Linked DNA regions of Homo sapiens: region 1 is linked to region 2. The links come from fine-mapping of genetic effects on gene expression. Tissue or cell type: whole blood. Region 2 holds a variant in brackets; the other region holds the start of a gene. All regions are shown on one strand. Distances are between the middles of the regions.

Region 1 (2,684 bases), 140 kb after region 2:
TGTTTACCCTAAAGTAAGATTTTATGATCAAATCTAGTGTATCGTTAGTTTTTGGAAGTAGAATAATCACTGCAGGGTTTTACACTAGTATATATTAACTTGGGATTCCGTGATCCATGGATCTCTCCAAAGGATGTGCATATGTGCAAATGTGTTGATGGAGGGGGCAAGATTACTTTGCTTAGGTTATCAAAGGGGTCCTTGTGCCCCCCAAATTAAGAACTAATGGCTTAGAATATACCAACAAAGTATTTCCCATGCATAAACCCTGCAAGATAAACACTGATAAAGAACCAACACACAAAGATCTTCCCAATGAGCTTCAAGAAAAGCTTCCAACTGAGTGATCACTGCTGAACTTAAAGATAATGACAAAAATAACGGAGTTGCCACGGGTGTGGGGATTTTGAAGCTATGCCCCTCCTCCTCACCCCGACCTTGGAGAACTATATATACAGCATGAGAGGAAGGAAGTTTTGGCAATACCTCACATTCGTATACCACTTTAATTTACAGAACAGAGCCTTCGTTTGATTCTCAAGATAATCTTAAAAAAAAAAGAAAAAGATGATTTCAAGGTATTATCAGTAAGCCCATTTTACAGATGGGGAAACTAAAGCTCAAGAGACGGTTAGGTGACTTAGGACAATCAAAAATGACTAGTCAAACCAATGATCTAGCCAATTTCTAGTGCCGGTGAGTGGGAAGAGTGGTGAAGACCCTAAGACATATACCCCGTGGGCGCCTAAAGCACTAAGCTCACGACGCTGGGAAAGCGGGGCCGAGAAGGAGGGACTCGGGGCGACCCGACAGCGCCAGACAGGGCGGCCGGCGCCGAGGGCCGCTACCTCGGTGCGGCGGTACAGCGTGGCTTCCCCGAAGGCGCCGCGGCCCAGGACGCGGATGGGGATGTAGTGCAGTTCCTCCTGCTCCGCCGCGCCGCCGCCGGCTCGCGGCCCCTGACTGGCGCTAGGCCCCGGACTCGAGTCCCCGCAACCCCCGGACTCGCTCCCAAAGTCCGAGTTGATGGAATCGCAGTGTCGCTCGTACTCGCCCAGCACCGACATGGCGGCGGCCGCGGGCCTTGGGGACCAGCCTGCGTATGCCCGGAGGCCCTGGCCGCGCTGCGTCCCGCTCGCTTCAGATGCCGGCCCGCGGATCCGTCAGCCCAGCAACCCCGCGAAGCTCGATGGTGGCTCCTGCCCCCCGACCCGGAAACAGTTCTCTGTGTTTCCGGCCTGGCTGAGTTTCCTCCGCCTTTGCTTACCCTCTTGGCTAGTCTAGCGGCCAAGGCTTCCCGCTTTCGGGGAAGGCCTGCAAAGTGAGGCCTCGGGCTAGGGTTGGCGGGCGCGTGGTGGGAACCGCGTGGAACCGAAGGGCTCCCACGGGAACAAGGGCATCACTGACGGTACGGCCTCTCGGGTCTATTGACCCTTCTCTGCCTCCCCGGTCCGGACTCATACAACTTGGAGGCCCAGAGGTCGTCCAGTCTCATCTTGACGTCAGGTCTGTGACAAGAGGGTGATTGGGGAAGCATTCCCAGTGTACACCTTCTTCCCCATTCCAACGTTGGACAGCATTCTTTTTTAGAGAGATAGTATAGTAAAGATAATATGGCCGGGCAAGGTGGCTCACGCCTGTAATCTCAGCATGTTAGGAAGCCGAGGCGGGCGGATCACCTGAGGTCAGGCGTTTGAGACCAGCCTGACCAACTGGTGAAACCCCGTCTCTATAAAATACAAAAATTAGCCAGGCGTGGTGGCAGGCACCTGTAATCCCAGCTACTCCAGAGGCTGAGGCAGGTGAATCACTTGAACCCGGAAGGAGGAGGTTGCAGCGAGCCGAGATCGCGCACTACACTCCAGCCTGGATAACAGAGCGAGACTTTGTCTCAAAAAAAAAAAAAATAATAATAATATAGACAGCCTAAATGTCTGCCTCCGGTCATCTCGGTCCCTGGGCCGAGTTCTTTCTCCCAGGGCCATCCTAAGTCCCTCCCTCTTCTACACAACTCCAAAAATATTTTAAGTCAACTCTCCTGACACTTTCCTTCTCCCCCGTCTCTTTTTCCAGATTCAATTTATTCTATGTGTTTTTCCAGATATTTGACCATATGATATCATGAAACATTCTTTGAGCACTTGGTGCCACACACTGTTTGGGAACAGGAAATCTGCAATAATGTTCTCCCTACCGTCAAGTAGGAAAACAGCAATACGGTGAACAATAGGTGTTCCATCAGTTATGTGACCTTGGGCAATTATGTGACCTTGGGCAACTTCTCATCTCCAAGCTTGTTTTGTTGTGAGAATGTGGTCTACATCACAGACATAACAGCTAACATTTATTGAGTGTTATGTTCTGGGTACTATGCTAAAGGTTTTTTACGTATTATCTCACATTATTATGTATTATCCTATGTATTATGTATTATGTATTATCCTAACATTCCCATTTTACAGAAACAGAGGTACCTAAGTAACCTGCTTAATGTGACAGACCTAGTAAGAGGGAGCTGGGAAGTTGAACCCAGCAATCTGAAAAAGCAGGATGTGATGGGGCTAAGAGAAAGCCATGTGCCTAGCCGGGCGTGGTGGCTCACACTTGTAATCCCAGCACTTTGGGAGGGCCGATCACTTGAAGCCTGGAGTTCGAGTTCAGCCTGGCCAACATGGTGAAACCCC
Region 2 (2,684 bases):
TCTGTTACCCAGGCTGGAGTACAGTGGCGTGATCTCAGCTCACTGTGACCTCTGCCTCCCGGGTTCAAGTGATTCTTGTGCCTCAGCCTCCTGAGTAGCTGGGATTACAGGCATGTGCCACCATGCCTGGCTAATTTTTTTTTTTGTATTTTTAGTAGAAACGGGGTTTCGTCATGTTGCCCAGGCTGGTCTTGAACTCCTGGGCTCAAGTGATCTGCCTGTCCCAACATGCCAAAGTGCTGGGATTACAGGCGTGAGCCACCACTCTTGGCCTATACTTTTGAGATGGGTTTTTTTCACTCAGCATAATTTCCTTGAGGTTAGTCTAAGTTGTTGGATATATCGATATTTCATTCCTTTCTATTACCGAGCTGTATTCCATGGTATGGATGTACAGTTTGTGTAAACATTCACCAGTTGGAAGACATTGGGTAGTTTCCAGTTGTTGGCTATTATGAATAAAGCTGCCATGAACATTCACCTGCAAGTTCCTATGTAGACGTTCTTCATTTCTCTGGGATAAATCACCAAAAATACAATTGCTGGGTTGTATTATAAGTTCATTATTAGTTTTGAAAGGGACTGCCCAACTATTTTCAAGAGTGATTGTGTGCAATCCGCCTTTTAAAACTGATAATACGGCCGGGCGTGGTGGCTCACGCCTGTAATCCCAGCACTTTGGGAGGCCAAGGCAGGCGGATCATGAGGTCAAGAGATGGAGACCATCCTGGCCAACATGATGAAACCTCATCTCTATGAAAAATACAAAAATCAGCTGGGCGTGGTGGTGCGCACCTGTAGTCCCGGCTACTCGGGAGGCTGAGGCAGGAGAATTGCTTGAACCCAGGAGGCAGAGGTTACAGTGAGCCTAGAGCCTAGATCGTGCCACTGCACTCCAGCCTGGTGACAGAGCAAGAGTCCATCTCAAAAAAAAATAAATAAATAAAAATAGAAAATAAACAAAACTGACAATATGTTATCAACAGTTCTCCTTATTGTTAAGCATTTACCATATCAAAATTCCAAAAATCGATATTCCATTGTATGACTGTACTATAACATTCTTTTGTTTTGAAAATAATTATATAACAAATACGCAATCATAATTTCCATTTCAGTTTTGAAGAATCACAAAGATACATGGAAACTATAAAGCACCTGAGG[T/C]ACCTTTCAGCTTTCAAGTCTCAAAAACAAGAATTACTTTCAATAGAAAGTAGCTCATCTTCCAAGTTTAAGAGAATAAAGAAGAGAATAAAGAGAATAAAGCTAATACCATTTTAGCTCCAAATGTTAATCAGACTACTTTATATCAAGGTAATATAGCTCGCAAGCATGGTAACAGCCAGGTTGAAAGTACTTTTTGTACTATAATGTTCTAGACCAATCTCCTAATTTTTAATATTTAGGTTTATTTCTGATTTTTGTGTTAAAAATAATAAAGTGAAAAATATTATTGTGGGCTGGGCGCAGTGGCTCACGTCTGTAATCCTAGCACTTTAGGAGGCTGAGGTGGGCGGATCATTTGAGTTCAGGAGTTTGAGACCAGCCTGGCCAACATGGTGAAACCCCATCTCTACTAAAAATACAAAAATTAGCCAGGTGTACTGGCTCAGGCCGGTAATACCAGCTAGGCAGGAGGCAGAGGCAGGAGAATCACTTGAACCCGGCAGGCAGAGGTTGCAGTGAGCCGAGATTGCACCATTGCATTCCAGCCTGGGTGACAAAACCAAAACTCTGTCTCAAAAAGAAAAGAAAACAATAAAAATAAAAGAAAAATATTATTGTGGATAACTGTATGCCTATTTCTGATTATTTCCTTAGAATGCATTTCTAAACATGGATATGCTGGCTCAAAGGGTATAAATGAACATTTTAAAGTCTTTTGCTGTTTTCCCAACTAAAACAGCTACTAAAAGGTGCTTTAATTTGCGCTCCCACAGGAATATATGAGAATTGGGACAAAATTTCTAAAAATACTAATATCGCAGCACAAATGGCAGTCAAATGGTTGGTATCTTAAATGCAGTATATAAATAGATGTTACAAATCAACTAAAAACAGATAAATACCCAATATCAAGTTGCTTTGGACTGCAAGTGATAGAGAACTCCATTCAAAATTATATAAACAATAGAGAAATGTATCATTTTACATAAAGAGTCTAAAGGTAGGGCAACTTCTGGTTTTGTTGATTTCATACAAAATTTTAATAAAAGATACCACAGTACATAGACTAAAAGTTCAGGCTCTGAAGCCAGACTGTTGTGTTTACATTCCAGCTCTTCCACTTACTAGGTGTGTAACATTGAGCGAGTTACCTATTTTTGCCTCAAGTTTCTCTTTTGAAAATGGTTACATTAAGAGCACCTATCTCAAGGTTTTTGTAAGAATGAAAAGAGTTAATATACATAAAATACCCATTAAGTGTTGATATTGTCAAGAGCCTAGGTCCTTTCTGTTTTTCTTTTCTTCTTTTTTGGTAAGGGGGAGGCAGAGCTCACTATGTTGCCCAGGCTGGTCTTGAACTCCTGGCCTCAAGCGATCCTCCCACTTCCGCCTCCCAAAGTGCTGAGATTACATGTGTGAGCCACCACACCCAGCTTCTTTCTGTTTTTCTGTTCTCCTATCCTCAGCATGTTAACCTTATTCCCAAGTCTTGAGACCTCAGGTCACAAGACAGCTGC

What was found. PIP is the estimated chance that this variant, and not a neighbour inherited with it, causes the effect.
Region 1: NEK9 starts here. The variant in region 2 is fine-mapped to the expression of NEK9 in whole blood (TOPMed, PIP above 0.99).

The regions. Positions count from the first base shown.
Region 1 is chr14:75,125,855-75,128,538 of GRCh38, forward strand. It overlaps NEK9 (NIMA related kinase 9), which reads right to left and starts at 1,194. Exons shown (of 22, transcript NM_033116.6): 1 at 849-1,194. The coding sequence starts at 1,067. RefSeq lists enhancers at 1,058-1,107, 1,118-1,247.
Region 2 is chr14:74,990,779-74,993,462 of GRCh38, forward strand. No RefSeq gene overlaps it. Among named protein-coding and RNA genes, the nearest start is that of EIF2B2, 11 kb to the right of the region's middle. The variant T/C (reference allele first, on the strand shown) is at 1,165.